Linked DNA regions of Homo sapiens. The protein of the gene in region 1 interacts with the protein of each later gene in a pairwise test. Each region holds a gene or a part of one and is shown in the gene's direction. Other genes may lie near its edges.

Region 1 (3,500 bases):
TTTCTCCCAGGGAGTGAGCCATAACTGGTGGCTGCTCTTGCGCCAATGAGCCTCCCCAATTCCTCCTGCCTCTTAGAAGACAAGATGTGTGAGGGCAACAAGACCACTATGGCCAGCCCCCAGCTGATGCCCCTGGTGGTGGTCCTGAGCACTATCTGCTTGGTCACAGTAGGGCTCAACCTGCTGGTGCTGTATGCCGTACGGAGTGAGCGGAAGCTCCACACTGTGGGGAACCTGTACATCGTCAGCCTCTCGGTGGCGGACTTGATCGTGGGTGCCGTCGTCATGCCTATGAACATCCTCTACCTGCTCATGTCCAAGTGGTCACTGGGCCGTCCTCTCTGCCTCTTTTGGCTTTCCATGGACTATGTGGCCAGCACAGCGTCCATTTTCAGTGTCTTCATCCTGTGCATTGATCGCTACCGCTCTGTCCAGCAGCCCCTCAGGTACCTTAAGTATCGTACCAAGACCCGAGCCTCGGCCACCATTCTGGGGGCCTGGTTTCTCTCTTTTCTGTGGGTTATTCCCATTCTAGGCTGGAATCACTTCATGCAGCAGACCTCGGTGCGCCGAGAGGACAAGTGTGAGACAGACTTCTATGATGTCACCTGGTTCAAGGTCATGACTGCCATCATCAACTTCTACCTGCCCACCTTGCTCATGCTCTGGTTCTATGCCAAGATCTACAAGGCCGTACGACAACACTGCCAGCACCGGGAGCTCATCAATAGGTCCCTCCCTTCCTTCTCAGAAATTAAGCTGAGGCCAGAGAACCCCAAGGGGGATGCCAAGAAACCAGGGAAGGAGTCTCCCTGGGAGGTTCTGAAAAGGAAGCCAAAAGATGCTGGTGGTGGATCTGTCTTGAAGTCACCATCCCAAACCCCCAAGGAGATGAAATCCCCAGTTGTCTTCAGCCAAGAGGATGATAGAGAAGTAGACAAACTCTACTGCTTTCCACTTGATATTGTGCACATGCAGGCTGCGGCAGAGGGGAGTAGCAGGGACTATGTAGCCGTCAACCGGAGCCATGGCCAGCTCAAGACAGATGAGCAGGGCCTGAACACACATGGGGCCAGCGAGATATCAGAGGATCAGATGTTAGGTGATAGCCAATCCTTCTCTCGAACGGACTCAGATACCACCACAGAGACAGCACCAGGCAAAGGCAAATTGAGGAGTGGGTCTAACACAGGCCTGGATTACATCAAGTTTACTTGGAAGAGGCTCCGCTCGCATTCAAGACAGTATGTATCTGGGTTGCACATGAACCGCGAAAGGAAGGCCGCCAAACAGTTGGGTTTTATCATGGCAGCCTTCATCCTCTGCTGGATCCCTTATTTCATCTTCTTCATGGTCATTGCCTTCTGCAAGAACTGTTGCAATGAACATTTGCACATGTTCACCATCTGGCTGGGCTACATCAACTCCACACTGAACCCCCTCATCTACCCCTTGTGCAATGAGAACTTCAAGAAGACATTCAAGAGAATTCTGCATATTCGCTCCTAAGGGAGGCTCTGAGGGGATGCAACAAAATGATCCTTATGATGTCCAACAAGGAAATAGAGGACGAAGGCCTGTGTGTTGCCAGGCAGGCACCTGGGCTTTCTGGAATCCAAACCACAGTCTTAGGGGCTTGGTAGTTTGGAAAGTTCTTAGGCACCATAGAAGAACAGCAGATGGCGGTGATCAGCAGAGAGATTGAACTTTGAGGAGGAAGCAGAATCTTTGCAAGAAAGTCAGACCTGTTTCTTGTAACTGGGTTCAAAAAGAAAAAAATAATAAAAATAAAAGAGAGAGAGAATCAGACCTGGGTGGAACTCTCCTGCTCCTCAGGAACTATGGGAGCCTCAGACTCATTGTAATTCAAGCTTTCCGAGTCAAGTGATTGACAACTGAAGAGACACGTGGCTAGGGTTCCACTGGAGAATTGAAAAGGACTCTTGAGCCCTCCTGGAATGGAGCTGTATAACTGTGCAGAGACTTTATCCATGCCAATAGTTGCTGTCCCCTTCCAGGGGTCACCTTGAGAGGCATGACAGCTGTTCCACAGGGGCTATCCCTTCTCAGAAAACTTCTCTTCTGAGCCTCTTTAACAGCTTTCTCCAGAACCAGTGTCTGAACCACCCTGGAAATTCTGCCTTATTATTTCTTACTCAAACATGTTTAGAGTGGATAGAAAATTATGCAGCTTGCACACCCATCGTCTTTAACCCCAAATTTCCTTTGGCTATTAAAAAAGTGGTGGCAAAAGACATCCTCAAAAGAAAGAGAAATGAAATATTTTTGAATGGTTGCACGTTAAAAATTAAAAGAAGGAATGGGGGCAGAATGCCATATTTTTGAGGGCTGTACTAGGTTTATCTCATTTAAGCCCCACAACACCCCACAGGAGGGTAATTTTCTAACTCTAGTTTGCAGAGGAGCAAATTGAGGTTCAGCAAGGTGAGAGAGGTACCCAAGGTCACATAGCTAGTTATGTGAGAAAGTTAGAGTACAGATCCTCTGGGGTTTCAGCTTATTGTAGCATATTTTCTCCGAAAGGCAAAAATGTGCCCTTTTGGCCGGGCATGGTAGCTCAAGCCTATAATCCCAGCATGTTGAGAGGCTGAGGTGGGCAGATCATTTGAGGCCAGGAGTTCAAGACCAGTCTGGCCAATATGGAGAAACCTTGTCTCTACTAAAAACACAAAAATTATCTGGGCATGGTGGGGCATGCCTGTAGTCCCACTTACTTGGGAGGCCGAGGCACGAGAATTGCTTGAACCCGGGAGGTGGAGGTTGCCGTGAGCCAAGATCACGCCACTGCACTCCAGCCTGGGCAACAGAGCAAGACTCTGTCTCAAAAAAAAAAATACAATATTTTAACAATGTGCCCTCTTAAGTGTGCACAGATACACATACACGGTATTCCCAAGAGTGGTGGCAGCTCAAAATGATATGTTTGAGTAGACGAACAGCTGACATGGAGTTCCCGTGCACCTACGGAAGGGGACGCTTTGAAGGAACCAAGTGCATTTTTATCTGTGAGTTCTGTTGTGTTTGTCAAAAAGTCATTGTAATCTTTCATAGCCATACCTGGTAAGCAAAAACTAGTAAAGACATAGGAACATGTAGTTTTACTTGGTGTTTATGTTGCAATCTGGTTGTGATTTATATTTTAAAGCTTGGTGCTAAACCACAATATGTATAGCATATGGAGTGCCTGTACAAGCTGATGTTTTGTATTTTGTGTTCCTCTTTGCATGATCTGTCAAAGTGAGATATTTTTACCTGCCTAAAATATGATGTTTAAAAGCATACTCTATGTGATTTATTTATTTCTACCTTTCTGAGTCTCTTGGACTAAGAAGATGTTTTGAAATGTACCATCAAATGTTAACAGAGTTTGATATGGGCTTTCTCTTTGGTTTCTCATCACATTTGTAAATGTCTTTTCAAAAGGATTTACTTTTTGTAAAAAGCTTCATTCTCACTCTGCTTTGCATCCCCCAAACTTC
Region 2 (3,500 bases), about 120 Mb from region 1:
GTAACACAGCAAGTAGTTAAACTGGGTTAAGTGATTAACCCAGGTTGAGTATGGTTCCAAAATCTCTTACAGTGTCAGGCAGGCTACATCAGTGCAGTATACGTACATCAGGTTTCACGAAAAATTTTTTCCAGAGAAAACACAAACCCAAGGAACCTTCAGTAAGTGGTGCCTTATATTAGTGGTTTTTAGCAAAAGGAAGAAACTTAAGTGTTTTCCTGCTGCCTGACAAAAGTGAAAAACAGTATTTTGGTTTTTATTGAAGTTAGCATGTATGTTTGTAGCTTGCATAAAATAGTACTGAAATCCAATTGATTATGAATTCTTGGACTAACAGAACCTGGATGACAAATTAGAGGTTCTGGCCTGGTTGCTGGCTTTTTTAGTTGTCTTGGGTGTAAATTTCTCAGCCACACGTGGGGATTGTGTTAGATAATCTGAAATCTAATTTTCATGGTTTTATGATTCAGCAGCTTTCTTCCTTTGATATTTTCTAGTATTTGCTTTATTATAGATTGGAATCCTCAAAATAACATTGACAAGTAGAAGATACTTCTGTTAGTGGATTTAAAAAAAAATTACATTGGGAATGTCCTTTGAGTGGTTGGCCCTAATCCCTGTCAGAAGCTGAAAGTTGTGGATCCTAAATTCATCTGGGCAGAATCTCACCTATGATTTCAGAAAGCTGAGAGTTTCAGAGAGTGACTGTAGTCAGTCCTTAGTGAGTACAAAATTGAGAATACATCATTACTTTAAATTAATGGTGCAGTAACTCTTGTGACTGATAGCAATAATTTAGGTGCTTTGTTGTTAGTACTTGATTAGATTGGATTGGGTCAGTTAGTTTCACCAAATTGCTAAAGACACCTGTCCCCCTAGAATTAAAATACTGAGTTACATAATGGCTACTAAAAGGATAACTATATGGGGTGTTCGATGATTCAAAGGTGAATTACTTGGTCTCTACCTTCAAGGAATATGATACAAGGCAATATGGTACTGCCATTAGACAGATATTAACAAAGTGTCTTGGGACTTAATAGGGAGGGTAGTTCCAGGCTGGGAGATGTAGTCAGATTCTTTTATAGAGTTGGCATTTGAGTTGGCCCGTGAAGGTTGGAAAAAGTTGTGACAGGTGGAAAAGGAGCAGGGGAGACCAGGACAGTGCAGTGAAATTCCAGCCAGGAGCAGTCACAGGCAATGAGACAGACTCATGGAGCCATGATTCTCAGCTGTCTTACCTTACCTTAGTTTTCCTAAGGAATATCATGGAATTCTGTAAAGACCTTTAAACTAAATAATGTTCATATGAGATGAGTGCTAGGATGGGGACCTGCTGCCTAATATAAGTAGTGTGAGTCTAAAACATTGTGGAAAGTGGTTAGTTTAATAATGTTATTAAAGAGACAAGTCTATCACAAGGGACCAGTTACCAGTGAAACTGTAGACCACCTGATTCACTGCGATAGGGTTAGCCAAAGGGAGGAGAGGGCAGATTGCATACATAGTACCTAAGGCCACTCAAAGACCTCTTTTAAAATCACGTGTCATGTTGATGACATTTGGAGGCTATTAATGTTTTTCTTCCCTTTTAAGACTTAGTGTTTTCTTTATTAGCATTAATTTACTCTAGTAAACAAAATTATGTGTGACTAAAAATGGCAAAACAGGCTGGGCGCAGTGGCTCACGCCTGTAATCCTAACACTTTGGGAGGCCAAGGCGGGTGGATCACTAGGTCAGGAGATCGAGACCATCCTGGCCAACATGGTGAAACCCCGTCTCTACTAAAATACAAAAAATTACCTGGGCGTGGTGGTGCACGCCTGTAGTCCCAGCTATGTGGGAGGCTGAGGCAGGGGAATCGCTTGAACCCAGGAGGTGAAGGTTGCAGTGAGCCAAGATGGCGCCACCGCACTCCAGCCTGGTGACAGAGCGAGACTGTCTCAAAAAAAAAAAAAAAAAAGCAAAACATCTAAAACTTCTGTTATATTCTAGTGTGTAAAGTTCTGCCTTTGCCACTGAGATGCATATCTGTTTTACAGAATAGTTTTTTTTCTTTCTTTCTTTCTTTGAAGACGGAGTCTTGCTCTGTCACCCAGGTTGGAGTGTGGTGGCCCAGTCTCAGCTCACTGCAACCTCCACCTCCCGGGTTCAAGCGATTCTCCTGCCTCAGCCTCTCGAGTAGCTAGGACTACAGGCGCGTTACCACCACGCCTGGGTAATTTTTTTATTTTAGTAGATTTGGGGTTTCACCATGTTGGCCAGGATGGTCTTGATTTCCTGACCTCATGATCCGCCTGCCTCCCAAAGTGCTGAGATTACAGGCGTGAGCCACCACGCCTGCCCTAATTTTGTGTTTTTAGTAGAGATGGAGTTTCACTGTGTTGGTCAGGCTGATGTCCAACTCCTGACCTCAGGTGATCCTCCTGCCTTGGCGTCCCAAAGTGCTGGGATTACAGGTGTGAGCCACTGTGCCCATCCTTGTTTTGTATTTTCTAAAAGAGATGTATCTTGTTTAAATATTAAATTATAAGATATTCAGGCCTTGCAAATTGTCTGGATTACACTGTAAAAGTAATCATTTATGTGCAAATAATTCCTTGAGATCAATAGTTAAATGAGCTCAAGCTGATCTGACTAAATTGGAGAAGATACAAAATGAAGATGGGGAGGAAGTGGTGCCATAAGCAGCCTTTTTTCTTTGACCATTTTATATGCCTTTTTTTTTTTTTTTTTGAGATGGAGTTTCACTCTTGTAACCCACGTTGGAGTGCAATTGCTTGGCTTGCAACAACCTCCACCTCCCGGGTTCAAGAGATTATCCTGCCTCCGCCTCCTGAGTAGCTGGGATTATAGGCATGAGCCACCAAGCCTGGCTAATTTTGCATTTTTAGTAGAGACGGGGTTTCTCCTTCTTGGTGAGGCTGGTCTCGAACTCCCAACCTCAGGTGAACCATCCTCGTCGGCCTCCCAAAGTGCTGGGATTACAGGTGTGAGCCACCGTGCCCTGCCCGCCATTCGTTTTTTTTTTTTTTTTTTTTTTTTTAATTCTGACTCTTCTGTGGTGGAAACCAGCAAATACTTCACATAATTTAGGATGCTAATACTAGTACAGTTAAAAGAATGATTACAAAGCAGATACTATTTCAAATTCTGTAAAAATCTGTTTTTAATATCCTTCACTGGCTGTTTGTTCTGACTAGAAATGTTTTGTATATCTGAAAGCACCAGTAACTCATAGCCATATAATTTTTTTGGTAATATGTTCATAGGCAAGTGGCAAGAGTTAGTAGAAAGATTTCTCTAAGAATTTATCCTAAATCAGATTACACAGAGTTGGGGTAAGTGAGTATTGTGTTATTTTCTTTTGTATATTTGACAATGGGAACTTTTTGAAACTCAACTTCAGTGTAATTTTAAGTCACTAAATTTGTCCACAAGTTAATGATTAAACAGTTACTGAAAGTGGAGAACCTTGCCATTTTTCGGACTGCGTTTT
Region 3 (2,390 bases), on another chromosome or scaffold:
TTATTGATAAGCGTCTAAGTTAAGAAAATGCTAGCATAGCTTATTTCAAGCTAATAGTACTTGTTAACTAGAATTTGCTTCTTTAGTCTGTATGTCTGGAACTTTGTTTTTATGAATCTTTATTATTTTTAGGGATCAAGAACAGTGGCTACACTGAATTTTGTATTATCATTATTATTATTTTGTCTTTCTTAGTGCAAAGTTTTGAAAGTGGTAAATGCATATCTTCTGAAAAGAAACATCACATCTTGGGGATTATCAGGTTGCCTTGTTTTATTCCTTAAGCAATATACAAAAAGTTCACAAATAATTTTTTTTTCTTTTTATTTTTTTTGAGACAGAGTTTCCCTCTTGTTGGCCAGGCTGGAGTGCAATGGCGCAGTCTCAGCTCACTGCAACCTCCGCCTCCTGGATTCAAGCAATTCTCTTGCCTCAGCCTCCCGGGTAGCTGGGATTACAGGTGCACACCACCACACCCAGCTAATTTTTGTATTTTTAGTAGAGATGGGGTTTTGCCAGGCTGGTCTCTAACTCCTGACCTCAGGTGATCTGCCCACCTCGGCCTCCCAAAGTGCTGGGATTACAGGCATGAGCCACAGTGCCTGCCTGGCCACAAATAATTTTAAAGAGTTATCTTCCATATATCTCAATTCTACATAATCTGACTCATTGTTTTTATTTATTAGGGCAAGTCAGTGTAGGTATGATATGCTGATCCAGAAAAGTCATTATAGAGAATTTAGCATTGCAGTCCAATGCTATTTATACCTCCTCTAAACCAGAGATGATGCTAAACTCATTAGAAGTACTTTTGTGTACATCTAGAATTTTGGCTATGATTTTTAAATTCTAATTTAAGCAGTTTCTGAACTTTTGTAAAGATTCTTAATAGTGAATCATAATGATACAGCTCCTCAAAACAGAAGGACTTAAATGTTAAAAACTGGAGTAAATAGGAGTAGGTACTGATCCATGTTTCTGTCCCTCTTTTACAGGATGCAGACTCTTCTTATTTTAAAATCTTTAAGACAAAACATGACTGAAAAGAGCACCTGTACTTTTCAAGCCACTGGAGGGAGAAATGGAAAACATGAAAACAGCAATCTTCTTATGCTTCTGAATAATCAAAGACTAATTTGTGATTTTACTTTTTAATAGATATGACTTTGCTTCCAACATGGAATGAAATAAAAAATAAATAATAAAAGATTGCCATGAATCTTGCAAAAAAGGTATTAACTCATACTATATTCTTGGATAAAATAACCTTTTAAAATACTTTAGCACATATGCTTAAAATCTAAGTTAACAGATTTGTCTTAGTCCATTTGTGCTGCTATAACAAAATACCACAGATTTGGTAATTTATAAACAACAGAAATCTGTTTTTCCTGGCTCTTGAGGCTGGGAATTCCAAGACCAATGCACCAGCAGAATTAGTGTCTGGTGAAGGCTGATCTCTGCTTCCAAGATGGCACCTCATTGCTGCATCCTCCACAGTGGAGGAATGTATGTCCTCACATGGTGGAAGGGACAGAAGGGAAAGAGGAGCAAAATGCTTTCAAAAGAGCATTTAATCTCATTCATTACTCAGTCACCTCTTAAAGGCCACATCCTTTAATACTGTTGCTTTGGGGATTAAGTTTCGACATGAATTTTGGAGGGGACAAAAACATCCAAACCATAGCAACATAAATGTATAGAATATTTCACACAAAGCAGAGTGCTGGGTAATGACCAGATATAAAGAAGTATTTGAAATGACCTTACCTCCAAGATGCTTATACTCTTAGAAAAGTTGACAGGTACAGATGGCTGTAATTTGAAGCAGCAGGTAGGATTCATTGCACCTATTATTCATTAAACACCTGTTGTATGTCTTCTACTGTACTGGAGTGCTTAGTATTAGTTAATTAACTCATTCCTCATAACAGCCCACTAAGATAGATGGTATTACCTACCTTGATAGATGAAGAAAGACCAACAAGGTTTTACTTTTCCAAGGTCAAGGTCACAAAGCTAGTAAGGGGTAAAGCCATGATTAGATTCAGCTCAGGAAGATTCCACTGGCAACTCCTTACTTCTACTATTATTAATTTTACTTTAACATTTAACACCTTACAGCAGAAAACATGCACAGGCACTAATAGGAAATCAGCAGGAGTAACAGGTAAAGAAAAACATGGTCCTTATCTACAAGCAGTTCACAATTGAGCTGGAGCCAAAGTAACATACATAAAATAACTGTAGAATAGTTGTTGGGCAAGTTGGAAGCCACCCAAGTGGCTGTCCTTGGAAAAGGGGGAAGATGACATGTGGTAGAGGTACACGATGAGGTATAGCGGGTAGAAGCAATGGAATAAATGCATACATAACAACATGGATATGTA
Region 4 (4,058 bases), on another chromosome or scaffold:
AGTAAGCTAGTGAGCAAGAGAGCAAATGTATGGGGCTTTCCCATGCCACTAATATCGAGGAGACAGTGGGCTGGGGACACCCTATCTTCTATCCCTTACTCCTCCCTCTAAAAGACTTCTGGCTCCCCCGCAAAGCCTTATTGAGTCAGGCCCGGAGCGATGGGTGTGGTGCTGCCCAGTATTTCCTTCCTTTGCCTGAGGCTGTGCCAAAAGAGCAGGCTGCTAGAAGAGGAGCCTCGACCTAGAGAGCAGCCCAGAGTCCACCAGGTGGCCGGAGATTTGGGCCAATTAAGTAGGGGGTTGGAGGTAGTAGTAGGAAGACCTGAGGTCAGTCTTGCCCTGGCAATTCGTGCCAGCAAGTGAAGACCCAACACTTGCATGAGGAAGGGATCCAACGAGGAGCTCATTAATGGGAAATATTCAGGAGCGCGGCCGAAGGGTTTGCGCCATTGTTGGTGAGTTGTTAAGACTTGGAAGAAAACTGACTTCAGTAAGCTTCCATTTCCACCCCTCGATGTGAGGAAATAAGATCAGGGCTGACAAACAGTGATGACTAATAATACCTTAAGCTTGCACAGCATACTTTACAGTTTACAAAACACTCTTATTTGATCCTCACAACAGCCAAGAGGCGACAAGGTGGCTATTACTAATTATCCCTAGTTTCCAGACCTGGAAAACTCTGGCTCAGAACTTGGGTGACACGGGTAGGTTACCCCGCCTTTAAGTGACCAAGCCGAGACTTACTGTGCCGCTCTCCCCCTTGGAAGCCTAGTGATGTGCCTAGGTAATGAGCAGGTAAAGTCGCTGACGCTGGGCAGCAGCTAGACGGCGCTGAAGCTCCAGTAAGGAATTTGGCATTAGGACCCAGCAGAAGCCTGGCCGCCCGCCGCGGAAAAGACTATTGGATTTGCTCTGCCGACCACACCTCCTCCCGCCCCGCCTACCTGTCCGTCTTCGCACAGCGCAGCCAATTGGTGGCCTCCACATCCTTATACGTCATTATTCTACGCCCAGGTGGCTCTAGGACACCCTGTGGTGCTCTGGGTCGCAGTTGTCCTCAGAGTTGCCTGATTGGAAAAATCTCCAGGGCGAGGGATCAGTCTCGAGGCTGCCGGTTCCCCTGGCCCTCAGGGATGGAGCCAAGGTCCCAGGGCGGGTTTTCTTTCCTAGGAAGTGGTTGCTGGGTTCTGAGGAGTTTCCCCCTTGGCAGCCATGAGCCGGCAGTTCTGGTAGTGACTGCTGGGCCCTGCTGGACAGCGGTCGCATGCAGCTCCTATGAGGCCCCTGCCGCCGGTCGGCGATGTCCGGCTGGAGCTGTCGCCTCCGCCGCCGCTGCTGCCGGTGCCGGTTGTGAGCGGGTCTCCAGTCGGCTCCTCTGGGCGTCTCATGGCCTCTAGCAGCTCCCTGGTGCCCGACCGGCTGCGCCTGCCGCTCTGCTTCCTGGGTGTCTTTGTCTGCTATTTTTACTATGGGATCCTGCAGGAAAAGATGTGAGCGACCCCGGGGGCGGGCCGACAGTCTCTCCCCAGCCTGTGACAGGGATCCCGGGCCTTCTGCCTCTGGACCCGGGCTTTCCTCTTGTCCTCCTGCCCGGCTGTCGCCCTCTTAGCACCCTACTACTTTTGCAGCTATGGCTGAGCCTACCCAGAATTCCAGAACTCCAGGATTATTTTCTGGATTCTTCGGACTTGGTTATTTTCTTTTCTTAGCTGTTTTTCCCCGCTTGGTTCTAAGGGCCTGCGTTTTACAGGCTGAGACTTCTATTCCTCAAACAGGACCCGAGTCGGCCCCCTTTTGGTACTCCCAGATGCTTGCAAACAACCTATTCGTCCTCGGCCTTGGTGCCATAGCCGAAATACCGTCTCCTCCTGCCTGGGGTACCTGATTTCACTATCTCGTTCTGCATGTTTCCTCTCCGTCTTTTTCGGGTATTCTTTTCTTAGGCTTTGGAATCAGTAGGCTGGGATGTCTAGTTTCTAGATCCAGTAAAATCAGCCCCTTTTGCAAATGAGCCTAGTGGTCCTTAACAAACTCTGCCTACATCCAGAGAGGCAAGATAATTTTAAAGTTTTCAGTGGCTCGGGATATATTAGATGACAGTGAGTGAAATACACTAATTTCTCCCTCTTTTCTCATGCATTTCATTTCTAGAACAAGAGGAAAGTATGGGGAAGGAGCCAAGCAGGAGACGTTCACCTTTGCCTTAACTTTGGTCTTCATTCAATGTGTGATCAATGCTGTGTTTGCCAAGATCTGTGAGTACCCAGATAGTAATTTGTTGGGTACCCCACCACCCCAAGTTCCCTCAGTATGCTGGGCATTAAGCATTGATTCAACCTTAAAGGCTAACTCATGATCTCCACCCCATTTTGTACTTACACAGCCTCTCTGTGAAGTCTGTAAAACTAATGACTTTGAAGTGGAGTAAAATATTATTTCCCCAATTTTTATCAGCTTCTGAGTTAGAAATGTTCAGAGAATGGGTCTTCTATATTCCAAATCCCCATTGAAAATACTTAAAACATTTTTTTCTTTCCCTTTGAGTTTCTTTTGTGTGTCAGCTTCAAGCATGCTTTGAGCATTCTCTCTTTGTTCCCTGGGGACTAGCAGCAGAGCTGACTGGTCCCTTGAACTGAATGAGGCCCCCACCTCCACCCTGCATGTGGTCTTTTGTTGGGCTTAGGTAGAATTGGAAAGATGAATAATTTTCAGAGATTTCCCAGTGTAACAGGACAGAAATAGCTTGTGTCTTGTTTGACAGACAAGTTCCTTTCATGTGGCTTCAGCTTTGCTTAGTGGTCCATCCTAGCCCCACCAGGTTTCTCTTGTTTTTTTTTTTTTTTCTTTTCTTTTCTTTTTTTTTTTTTTTTTTTGTCTTCTCCCAGTGATCCAGTTTTTTGACACTGCCAGGGTGGATCGTACCCGGAGCTGGCTCTATGCTGCCTGTTCTATCTCCTATCTGGGTGCCATGGTCTCCAGCAATTCAGCACTACAGTTTGTCAACTACCCAACTCAGGTGAAACCTCAGGGTGGGATGATGGTTGGCTCAGATATCATTTGAAAAGGACTAAGAGTTCTTCCCTCAGGTCTGTGAGTTAAAAAAAAAAAAAAAAAAAAGATAACGGTCCTGTAAGACATTGGGAGTGTATAGAACCATAGAACTTACGTTTAGTGGTGGTGGGTTGGGCCATGATAGGGCTGCTTTCTGAGGCTGAGGTCTCTGGTGCAGGCCCTGTGCTTACTCATCTTAATCAGTGCGGTACCTAGCATAGTACCTGACACATCACAGATGCTCAGAAATTATTTGCTGGATTTAATTTCAGGTCCTTGGTAAATCCTGCAAGCCAATCCCAGGTAAGCAAAGAAGATGGTCTTCCTCTTCTGTCGTCACTCTTCCTATAGTAAGCTCTCTCTCTGCTACAACTGTGTCCCTCTCGGCTTCATCATCCCATCATGGCTGTCTCCAGGGACTTTCCCCCAGCTCTCCCTGCTGCCCATCCTGTCATCTGTGTCACTTCTTGTGATGTTCATAGGCTGGTAATCCTTAATAGGAGCTAAAGGCTGACCTAGCCTGCTTCACTTGGTCAGCCATTTCTGTGTTGCATGTGTTTATATTGTCATTAGACAACTTAATTCCCATTTTGATCATCAGTTTCTTTATCTCAACTTCTTTTCCTTCTCCACTGTTCCCTACCCTTGTCCTGTCCCTTCCTGGACTTTTCACCTTTGTTCTCTACCTCCTCCCTGTCTTATACTTAACCCTGTTGCTCAATCCTTATCTAGGTGCCAGCCTGGCACCCTCCTTTTGTCCTCTCTAAGCCTTCCTTCTCAGTCATTCTTTTCTCCCTGAGTCTTTTCTTGGTTCCTGGGAGGGAGGGCATTGGGGTCATCAATACCTTATGGATGCCTGAATTTTCCACTCTGTTTTTTCCCTGTAGTCATGCTCCTTGGGGTGACCCTCTTGAAGAAGAAGTACCCGTTGGCCAAGTACCTGTGTGTGCTGTTAATTGTGGCTGGAGTGGCCCTTTTCATGTACAAACCCAAGAAAGTTGTTG
Region 5 (3,500 bases), on another chromosome or scaffold:
GCCGTCAATGATTTAGGAGATCGGACAAATGTGTATTTACTTTAAGACATAATTTTGTAAGTTAATTAAAATGATACATACTTTCTGTCTAATTATTTCTTATCATTTGTGTCTACATAACAGCAACGCATACTGGGTCCTGTGGGGGAAATAAAGGTTAATTGAAGGCTCTGACATTTGCTCCTTAATTAATAGGTTTTATATTAGAGAATTATGATTTCATCTTGGAAATTGGATTTACTGACAGCCATTTAGAAACACAGCTGTTTTATGAATTGAAATATACCTTAACACAGAAACCTTTTGTGAAAGTATTAATTGGTAATTTACTAAATCTTTTTAGGGAGGTAACTGGTTTGTTTCTAGTGTAACCCTTTATATTTTACCTTAAACATTTTCTTAATTATGTAAATTCGTAATAATCTTCTTTTTTCATGTTTGAATATTTTCTTCAGAATCTGTGAGAAGGGAGATGTGACTTGGAAACTTCTCTAAGTTTTGCTAAAGAATGTACGACGATGTTTCTGCCTTTGGGCTTGCCATTCCTGTTCTTTTTTTGTGTGTATGAAACAGAGACTTGCTCTGTCACCCAGGCTGGAGTGCAGTGGTGCTCTCTTGGCTCACTGCAACCTCCGCCTCCTGGGTTCAAGCCATCCTCCAGCCTCACTCAGCCTCCCAAGCAGCTGGGATTACAAGTGTCTGCCACAACACCCGGCTAACTTTTAAAAATATTTTTAGTGTAGACAGGGTTTCGCCAGGCTGATCTTGAAGGCTGGGCTGGTCTTGAACTCCTGCCACCCGCCTCTGTCTCCCAGAGTGCTGGGATTACTTGCCATTCCTGTTCTGTAAAGTGTTCTGCTCTCCCTATTTCTGCAAGGAGAATTCTCATGCGTCGTATAGCATTGCATTTGATTCATATGTCTCTTATTGCCCTGATTGTGTATTTTAAAGATCTCTTTCCTTTTTTGCCTTGAGATTGAAGGATTTAAAGGAAGGAATCATTTTTTAAATTCATTTTTATATAGCAAGTGCTTACCCCACAATATGCATTCAAAAATATTTGCTAAATTAATGATTGAGACCCATTATTGTCTCCTTTTTTGCCTAATTATATTTTCTCTCTTTTTAAAATCTTTCTTTATGCAGTGCCCTAACCATTTCTAATATTCAGGCTGGATCTACTGGAAATTGGGGCTGTCATGTCCAGACCAAACGTGGGAATAATACGAGGACTGTGGATATTGTGGTATTAGAGAGTTCTGCACAGTACTGTCCTCCAGAGAGGGTGGTAAACAACAAAGGTGACTTCAGGTCAGTGTTGTGGAAAATACGGGGAAAAGTTTAATTTGTCCCAGATCCTTCTGTTGTCTAAGACACATTATTGGTTTCCTGTCCTGAGTAACAAAATTTGAGAACTGCACATGTCTGAGGACTACCCTTTAGAATAATGATTTCAGAATCACATATGGAGATGAACAAAAGGGGTGCTTGAACTTTATCTCAGACCTGTTGATTGAAGAATCTCTGAAAGTAGAGTCATTTTTAACAAATGGTTTTGTTGTGTAAGAGCCATTGCCTTAGGGAAACATTGGAGATATTCTGGTAAAAGAGTACAAAATTCAAACAGGTTAAGTAAGGTATTTTCTGTTTTTTTTCCCCCCAGTGGCTCTTTTATAGATGAACCTTGGAAGGTTTTATATTGCTAAGGTACTTTTCACTACTGGCAGTTCAGTAGGCATCAGAATTAGAAGAAACACCTATCTAATTTTCTCCCCTTGTTCAGTTCTTCTGGAAATCAAGCAAGAAGGACTTTGGGAAATGAAAGCTGTTGGGTAGCCTGAAACTTGGGGAGCCATGGAATCCCAGGTGGGGTTTGTTAATCTAAGCAAAGGGAGTTATTTATTTATTTTTTTATTTTAGTAGAAAGTTTAGGATTTGCAAGAGATGACAGCTTTTACCTTAAACTCTCTTTACTTTCAAAGGTGCTTTAAGACATCTTTAAATATCTTATTTACTTGATCTTATTTATGTTCAGGGATTTAAAAAATGAGTTTATAGTTGATATGAACAAAGGGAAATATGTTATTCTTTGAAGCAGCATAAAGATTGTTTATTACCCAGTTTGCATTGTCTCTAATGGGTTCAGTTGTTACCTCCTGTCTCTAACCTCAGTGTTTCAAGGGTGGGAAAACCCTTTGGTGTTAATCTTTTAAATCCAAAGTAAAGAAGCAATAATAACATCTTTATCTCAGCTAGTTTGCCATTGCTCTTTTTAAAAAAGTTATTCTTGACATCAATATATGGAAATCAACATTTATTATTGCCAATGGATAAGTCTTTTATGTAGATTAGGTATTGATCTATAATATTTATAGTACATGCTTTTAAGTGAAATATATGATATTTGGTAATTTTGTTACATTCAACATCTTTTATCAAATAATCCTAATATGATATTTACTATTTATGGTAGATTTTCTATATTCTCATAGTTTTGAGTGCTTTACATTTTTAAAAATAGAGCAATTAAATGTTTATAGATCAATGAATTATTTGTCTTTGACACTCCTTAAGATATTATGCAATTAAATTCCCACTGCATTAATAAGATTTAGTTTAGTGTTGCTTGATCTATTTATGTGGTTTTTGTAATGAATTCTGTTTTGGTGTGACTGATACTGTCATTTAGTGGTTCCTGTGATGAGCATCCATGGTAACTTGTATTAAACATGTTGAATTTCATTCTCAGTTTTGGAGACATAGAGTTCAAATAACAAAGGTTTCTCCCAGCCCAGTTTTGATGACCCGTGTCAGGGTTGTATTGACATGACACATCTTCATCTTTGATTTTTTTCTCTGCTGTTGTTATTCTTGATGTACCCGTGTCATTTAGATTTTCTTGTACTATTTTGTCTTCATCTCTAGATGGCCCAGAACATTGGCAGGCATTACTGCATATCTGCAGTGTACGCGGAACACCCATGGCAGTGGGATATATCCCGGAAACCCACAGGATGAGAGAAAAGCTTGGCGCAGATGTGATAGAGGTGGCTTTTGGGCAGATGATGATTATTCTCGCTGTCAGTATGCAAATGATGTCACTAGAGTTCTTTATATGTTTAATCAGGTAACTAGAAAGTCTTCATGTTTACTTGGGTTGTGGAGAAAACATGGTATTCAAACCAAATACATAAGTTTTTTTTTTTTTTTTAATACTAGGCAAAACATAAGGATTTTGTGTTTTTACTTTAGTTGACTTAACTGTCTTCAGGATCAGGTCCATCTTAATCACTAGTCAAGGCCCTCTATAGAATCCTTCCTTTGCAGTCACCATCTCCCTTTGTGCCTTTGTTTGAATATCTTTTTTTTAATCTGTATCCACCAGACAGAATCCTAACCATCCTTCGAGTTCACATTGAAAGCCACCTCTTGGATTCATTTTATAATCACTTTGTTGAAAGCGATTGCTTAGAATACTTGAACTACTCATGTGCTTTTTG
Region 6 (3,500 bases), on another chromosome or scaffold:
TCCAAATGGAGACTCCAGGTCTTGCCGCTGACCGGTGACTCTGCTGCCAGCATTTGAGACCCGCCATCACACAGGAGTTGCAGATTCGGAGAAACCCTAACTAGCCAGGGTGCTGCCAGCTGGGAAAAGGCCGCCTTTTTTTTTTTTTTTTTTTTTTTGAGTTGGGGTCTTGCTCTGCCATCCAGGCTGGAGTGCAGTGGTGCAACTGATAGCTCACCACGGCCTCCAACTCATGGGCTCAAGGGATCCTCCCACCTCGGCCTCCTAAGTATCTGGGACTATAAGTGTGTGCCACCATGCCTGGCTAATTTTTTTTTTCTTTTTCATAAAGATGAATTCTTGCTATTTTGCCCAGGCTGGTCTGGAACTCCTGGGCTGAAGCAATTCTCCCACCTCAGCCTCCCAAAGTGCTGAGATTACAGGCGTGAGTCACAATGCCTAGCCAAAAAGCCAGTCTTGAGATGGGGAAGACGTGGCCCGTGCTGTCCCCAGCAGTGCCCAGTCCCAGCCAAAGTGGGCAGTGCTGCCTCACTCTCCCACCCACCCTCAGGGTGTGGCACTTACTGGGAAGAAGCAGGCATTGAGAAACAGAATTGAGGGGGGGAAACAGTCCAGGGCCAACAGTGCTTGGGGATTGAGGCCTGAAAATGCGAGCAGGGTACAGAGGCTGTGGCTGGCCAGATGGGTCGGGTGCCCCCTGCACTCCCACCCCCTAGTCAGGGGTCACCCATCCTACTTTGCCTTGTGTGGAGCTGACAGGTGACATGTTTTCCTATTGTTGTCCTTGACTTGATAACAATCTGGGAGTTAAACACATATGATCATCCCTGCTTTACAACTGAAAAACGAGGCCTAGAGATACTATCATCATATACACCTGAAAAACGAGGCCTGGAGCGATGGAGGAGCTTGTTCAAGGTCAGAGCCAGCACTCATATATGGGTCTTAAGACACTGGAGCAGCCAAGGGCCTCTAGACCAGGACATTCCACTCGGAGCAGCAGCTCAGGGGCCACCAGGCCTCTGTGGCAGGGGGACCTCTGTGGCAGGGGGGACCTCTGTGGCGGGGGGGGGGCCTCTGTGGCAGGGGGGTCACAGCCCAAGGAAGGGGAGCAGGCCCAGGCATGGTTTCCGTTTCTGGGAGCCAAGAGCCTTCTCAGAAGAGGGGGAGAGAGCTACTGCATGGAATCATTTGGGCCCTGGAGGCTGATGGGTACTTGGGGGAGCAATCCCTGGTGACCCCAACCAGCAAGACAAGTGCCCTGTGAAGGGGAAGGGACTACAGCTGATCAAAGGAGCAGGCACCAGTGGCCGGGCCTCCCGTCTGCCCCTCATCCTCCAGGCTCTGGCGGGAAGGAGCAGGAAGGGCTCCCTGCCCTTGGGGTTTTGATCAGTGAGGAGGGGGGCTTGGGTCTGAGTCTGGGTCTGGGTCTGCTGCCGAAACACTGCCCCCAGTCCCTCTCCTCACTAGACTCTGGGGTCTAGGCGTGTCTTTGTGGTCGGCCTTCTCCAAACCCTCTAGGCCTCTGTCTGCAGCTGCTGCTGCCTGGACCTATACACAAGGTCCCACCCCTCACCGGGGCCAAAGACGTGGTTGCAGGCCCTGGTGGATCCTTTCTGTTTTGCTCCATCCCCGTCCCCTCTTGCACCCAGCATCGTCCTGGTCAGAACTTCCGTTTAAACCTTCCTTGCCTGCCGTGCACTCCGAGGGGGGCGTCACTTTGCCATAGGCCCCAGGGCTGAAAATGGCGGGACATCCAGTATTGGGCTCACGTGCATAAGACTGTCCCAGACAGCAGCACAATCACGTTCAGCCAAGTGGAGTTTCCGACGCACTTGTGTGGCAGCCGCGTGAATGTGAGCCGATATGCAGCTGGGAGGGGTTGTGGGCCTCCTGCGGTGAGGGGCTCCTGCCAGGAGCTCTGAGAAGCCTCCACAGAATCAGCCGTCGGGCTCCTTCAGCAGCAGCTCCCCTTATCTGTGCCAACGACTGGGGGCCTAACTCAAGGGTGCCAGCCCGTCTTCCGCCAATACAGACTGTGGGATTCTGAGAGTTAGGAGCCTGGGGTCCCCTGGGGTGGGGTGGTCAGGGTGAGCAGGTGGGCTCTGTGAGCCTGTTTCCCCATGCCCTGACTCACCCCAATCCCTGGGTGAGGACAGAGCTCCTGAAGGCCACTGAAGGAGGTGCAGCACACTCCACCTGGGTGGCCTTCCGCAGCTCAGCCCTCTTCCTGCCAGCAGGAAGCCTCTGCCTGTGCTCCTTAAGTTAGCCATCCTCACCCCCTCCGGGCAGCTCTGAGACTGAGCCAGGGCCACTAGCAGCACCCAGACCTCGACCCTTCTCAGACCGAGGCGCCACCACCCCAGGCCGAGGAGGCAAGGAGGGAAGACCAAAGTCTAGAGGACTGTCTTGGTGGCCCTGGGCGAGTCTTGAACTTTGGTGCCATCATCTGCAAAAGGGAGGAAAGAATGCCTGCGTGGTGCAGCTACGTGGATACGCAGTGAAGACCCGCATGGTGGGACGCCTGGCACTTAACAATGGTAGCATTTGGCCGGGCGCGGTGGCTCACGCCTGTAATCCCAGCACTTTGGGAGGCCGAGGCGGGCGGATCACGAGGTCAGGAGATCAAGACCATCCCGGCTAAAACGGTGAAACCCCGTCTCTACTAAAAATACAAAAAATTAGCCGGGCGTAGTGGCGGGCGCCTGTAGTCCCAGCTACTTGGGAGGCTGAGGCAGGAGAATGGTGTGAACCCGGGAGGCGGAGCTTGCAGTGAGCCGAGATCCCGCCACTGCACTCCAGCCTGGGCGACAGAGCGAGACTCCGTCTCAAAAAAAAAAAAAAAAACAATGGTAGCATCGTTTTCAGTGCCCAGGAAGAAGGCAGCTGGGACAGGGAAAGGGCCACCACACCACACCCAAGCCCATACAACAGGAGAGCCACTTTCAGCAGCTCTGAGCAGGACAGACTTGTGGCCAAGTCAAGAAAGTAAGGTCTGGTCCCAGCGAGGTGGCTCATCCCTGTAATCCCAGTGCTTTGGGAGGCCGAAGCGGGGGCGGGGTGGATCACTTGAGGTCAGGGGTTTGAGACCAGCCTGACCAACATGGTGAAACCTCAACTCTACTAAAAATACAAAAATTAGGGCCGGGCGCAGTGGCTCACGCCTGTAATCCCAGCACTTTGGGAGGCTGAGGCGGGCGGATCACAAGGTCAGGAGATCGAGACCAACGTGGCTAACACAGTGAAACCCCATCTCTACTAAAAATACGAAAAAAAAAAATTAGCTGGGCGTGGTGGTGGGTACCTGTAGTCCCAGCTACTTGGGAGGCTGAGGCAGGAGAATGGCATGAACCCGGGAGGTGAAGCTTGCAGTGAGCCGAGATTGTGCCACTGCACTCCAGCCTGGGCGACAGAGCAAGACTCCGTCTCAAAAAAAAAAAAAAAAAAAAAAAAAGTAAGGTCTGTATCTGCTGACCCCACCCTTCTCCGAAGCCCTCTCC
Region 7 (3,500 bases), on another chromosome or scaffold:
AGGATGCCCCTCCTGTGATGACAGGTGGGGGTGGATGGCATGCTTGGTGTGGTTGTGGAGTGCTTGAAGAGCTGTGGCAAGTCTGAGGGGGAGCCGTGGGAGGCACCTGGGCATGGAGGGGCTGAAGCCCAGGAGTAGCCAGCTGGGCAGGGAGTGAAGGCAGCCCAGAGCATGGGGTGGCACGCCGTGGGAAGAGAGGGGGCTCGGCCTCAGCAGCAACTCAGGGACTTTGCAACTTACAACCACAAGATCTTTGACTATCACAGCTGAAGGGACCTCTGGCATCACCATTGTTCTACAGGGAGGATATTAAGGCCACCTACCTAGGGACCCAGCTGTCCCTGGCATTCCTGGAAATGGAGCCTGGGATGTTGACACCCACGGCCACGTGAGCTCAGTGGCTTGGCTGCATAAAGTGGAGTCCCACCCATGGTGTGACCGTCATGTGTGTCACATGTGAGGCTGTCGTATGCCTGATTGTGTGCTGAGCCCATGCTTAGTACAGCGCAGAGCAGGCTGCTAGATCCCTGCCCTCATATCCACCAATCTTGCCCCTCCTCCGGGTGAGGAGTGTGCCCGGTGGTCCCCTAGGCAGAAGGTGTCGGCCAAGGGGCAGCTGACTGCAGCTAGAGCCCTCAGCACAGCACACGAGGCTGCAGTGGCGTCAGGGGCTTAAGCAAACTGTAAAGTGGGTAACAAGTGATGTGGCTTGTGATGTGGCACCACTGAGCCCTGAGCCCCAGACTGGGCCAGGTGGCACTGCCATGGCCCCTCACCTCCTTCCTTTTTCTTCTACTTCTGGTGCTGACTGGCCCCTTCTAGCCGGCCAGTGGCATAATAGGGATGGAGGGACTGATCTGCAGGGTGTCCAGTCCCGTGGTGTGATACCCCCACCTGGGCTCATTTCAAGCCACCAACATGGCATTAACGCTTTACGGAATTCCTGAATAGTTAACAGTCAGCACTTGTGAACTGGCAAGGGACAGCCCAGGGAGCCACTGGGGAGAGGAGCCCGGGCTTTCTATCCACAGCGGGTTATCCTTCTTCTGTCTGTCCCTATCTGTGCTGTGCCGCATGCAGGCTCTTTTTTTTTTTTTTGAGATGGAGTCTCGCTCTGTCACCCAAGCTGGAGTGCAGTGGCGTGATCTCAGCTCACTGCAACCTCTGCCTCCCAGGTTCAAGCAATTCTCTTGCCTCAGCCTCCCAAGTAGCTGGGACTACAGGTGCATACCACCACAACCGGCTAATTTTTTTTGTATTTTTATTGGAGATGGGGTTTTACCGTGTTGGCCATGGTGGTCTTGATCTTCTGACCTCTTGATCCACCCACCTTGGCCTCCCAAAGTGCTGTGATTACAGGCGTGAACAACCGTGCCCAGCCTGCATGCAGGCTTAACCATCCCTTAGGTCTTCACTTCCAGGTGGGAAAGGGGCCAAGGGAGGCACTGTCACTGTCTTGCTTGTTCTGTTGAGGTGTAGCGTGTACATTTCTGAAGGTGAATATTTACTTAGATGACTTAGCAGGATGACCACCCTAGTGAGATACCTCCATGAGTGAATGCATATGTCTTGCTGAGATGAGGTGACTGAATACACATATGAACATAAAACCTACTGTGTCCTCACCCACGTCCTTGGAGGAATACACGGGAAACTCATGGAGTTGTCTTCAGCCTCCCAGCGAGGAGTCTGGTGGGGGAGCTGGCTCTGGAGGACAGCCTGTTTGTGGCATCTCTGCCTCTGTCCGTCTCTGCCTCTGCCCACTGGGCTGAGGGCACGTGCCCCAGGGCCTTGGGGAGGCAGCCCTGCCTCATAGCTTGGGGCCTCAGTTCCAGCCTCTAAGAAGCCATGTAGTTGCATTCTTCATTACTCACGTGTTTTTTAAAATCTGAGACATAGTTCACATATTATTAAATTCACCACTTTAGATTGTAAAATTCAGTGGTTTTTCGTGCATTCACAAGGCTGTGCAACCATCACCATTAATTCCAGAACATTTTAATCATTCCTAAAAGAAACCTTGTACTCATTTGCAGACAGTCCTCATTTCCCCCTCCTCCCAGCCCTGGCCACCAGTAACCTGCCTTCTGTCTCTACAGATTTGTCTGTTCTGGACATTTCACATAAATGGAGCCATATATTATATAGCCTTTTGTGCCTGGCTTCTTTCATTTATTAACAACATATTTCCAAGATTCATCCGTATATTGTAGCATGAATCAGTACTTCATTCCTTTTTCTGGGTGAATAATATTCCATTGTGCCATAGTTTGTTTCTTCCTTCATCCGTGGTAGACATTTGCATTGTTTCCACTTTTTGGCTACCGTGAATAATACTGCTATGAACATTCCCATACAAGTTTTGGTGTGAACATACATTTTCTCCTTGAATATATACCTAGGACTGGAATTGCTGGCATATGGTAACTCTATGTTAAACTTTTTGAGGAATTATCAAGCTGTTTTCCAAGTAATTGAACAATTTTACATTTATTAAATTTTACACCAGGAATGTATGAAGGTTCCAATTTCCCGACATCCTTGCTGATGCTTGTTATTGTTGTCCGGTTTAGTAGGTGTGAAGTGGTGTCATATTGTGGTTTTGATTTCCATTTCCCTAATGACTGATAATGTTGAGCATCTTTTCATGTATCTGTTGGCCACTTGTAAATCCTCTTTGGAAAAATGTCCATTCAAACTCTTTGCCCATTTTTTAAATCGGGTTGTCTTTTTATTGTTGAATTGTAAGAGTTCCTTATTTATTTGAATACTAGACACTTCTCAGACATATGATTTGCAAATTTTTTTTTTTTAAGATGGAGTCTCACTGTGTCGCCCAGGCTGGAGTGCAGTAGTGCAATCTCAGCTCACTGCAACCTCCGCCTCCTGGGTTCAAGCGATTCTTCTGCCTCAGCCCCTCCAGTAGCTGGGACTACAGGCGTGTGCCACCATGCCTGGCTATTTTTTTTTTGTATTTTTAGTAGAGATGGGGTTTCACCATGTTGGCCAGGCTGGTCTCAAACTCCTGACCTCAGGTGATCCTCCCGCTTCAGCCTCCCAAAGTGCTGGGATTACAGGCACGAGCCACCGTGCCCAGCCGATTTACAAATATTTTTTCCTTTTCTGTGGATCATCTTTTCACTTTCTTGATTGTGTCGTTTGATACACACGTTTTAACTTTTAATGAAATCCAATTTATTTCCTTATTCTTTAGTTGCTTGAGTTTTTTTTGTCATGTTTAGGAAACTATTGCCTAATCCTGGCTCATGAAATGAAAACATCTGTTTTCTTCTAGGAGTTTTATACTGTTAGCATGTAGCTATCCAGTTGTCCTAGCATCATTTGTTGATAAGACTACTCTTCGCCCCATTGAATGGTCTTGGCACTCTTGTCAAAAATCAGTTGACCACAAATATATGGGATTATTTTTGGACTCTCGAGACAGGGTTTCACTCTTTCACCCAGGCTGGAGTGCAGTGGCAAGATCTTGGTACATTGCA

What was found.
Region 2: the proteins of HRH1 (region 1) and CNBP interact in a two-hybrid assay, tested with the Homo sapiens proteins (one large-scale study listed by BioGRID and IntAct).
Region 3: the proteins of HRH1 (region 1) and DHRS7 interact in a two-hybrid assay, tested with the Homo sapiens proteins (one large-scale study listed by BioGRID and IntAct).
Region 4: the proteins of HRH1 (region 1) and SLC35B1 interact in a two-hybrid assay, tested with the Homo sapiens proteins (one large-scale study listed by BioGRID and IntAct).
Region 5: the proteins of HRH1 (region 1) and ADGRA3 interact in a two-hybrid assay, tested with the Homo sapiens proteins (one large-scale study listed by BioGRID and IntAct).
Region 6: the proteins of HRH1 (region 1) and SLC43A2 interact in a two-hybrid assay, tested with the Homo sapiens proteins (one large-scale study listed by BioGRID and IntAct).
Region 7: the proteins of HRH1 (region 1) and LIMS2 interact in a two-hybrid assay, tested with the Homo sapiens proteins (one large-scale study listed by BioGRID and IntAct).

The regions. Positions count from the first base shown.
Region 1 is NC_000003.12:11,258,993-11,262,492, forward strand, and holds part of HRH1 (histamine H1 receptor), read left to right. Parts: intron 1-10; 5' UTR 11-45; coding exon 46-1,509; 3' UTR 1,510-3,500. UniProt on the Homo sapiens protein: G-protein-coupled receptor for histamine, a biogenic amine that functions as an immune modulator and a neurotransmitter.
Region 2 is NC_000003.12:129,173,897-129,177,396, reverse strand, and holds part of CNBP (CCHC-type zinc finger nucleic acid binding protein), read left to right. Parts: intron 1-3,500. UniProt on the Homo sapiens protein: Single-stranded DNA-binding protein that preferentially binds to the sterol regulatory element (SRE) sequence 5'-GTGCGGTG-3', and thereby mediates transcriptional repression. Has a role as transactivator of the Myc promoter.
Region 3 is NC_000014.9:60,143,619-60,146,008, reverse strand, and holds the end of DHRS7 (dehydrogenase/reductase SDR family member 7 isoform 1 precursor), read left to right. Parts: exon of another isoform or gene 1-995; coding exon 996-1,043; 3' UTR 1,044-1,890; downstream 1,891-2,390. UniProt on the Homo sapiens protein: NADPH-dependent oxidoreductase which catalyzes the reduction of a variety of compounds bearing carbonyl groups including steroids, retinoids and xenobiotics.
Region 4 is NC_000017.11:49,705,165-49,709,222, reverse strand, and holds the start of SLC35B1 (solute carrier family 35 member B1), read left to right. Parts: upstream 1-1,258; 5' UTR 1,259-1,278; coding exon of another isoform or gene 1,279-1,389; coding exon 1,390-1,493; intron 1,494-1,778; coding exon of another isoform or gene 1,779-1,880; intron 1,881-2,154; coding exon 2,155-2,258; intron 2,259-2,888; coding exon 2,889-3,019; intron 3,020-3,326; coding exon 3,327-3,357; intron 3,358-3,941; coding exon 3,942-4,058.
Region 5 is NC_000004.12:22,436,067-22,439,566, reverse strand, and holds part of ADGRA3 (adhesion G protein-coupled receptor A3 precursor), read left to right. Parts: intron 1-1,146; coding exon 1,147-1,311; intron 1,312-2,925; coding exon 2,926-3,127; intron 3,128-3,500. UniProt on the Homo sapiens protein: Orphan receptor that may have a role in planar cell polarity pathway.
Region 6 is NC_000017.11:1,569,835-1,573,334, reverse strand, and holds part of SLC43A2 (large neutral amino acids transporter small subunit 4), read left to right. Parts: 3' UTR 1-3,500.
Region 7 is NC_000002.12:127,669,031-127,672,530, reverse strand, and holds part of LIMS2 (LIM and senescent cell antigen-like-containing domain protein 2), read left to right. Parts: intron 1-3,500. UniProt on the Homo sapiens protein: Adapter protein in a cytoplasmic complex linking beta-integrins to the actin cytoskeleton, bridges the complex to cell surface receptor tyrosine kinases and growth factor receptors. Plays a role in modulating cell spreading and migration.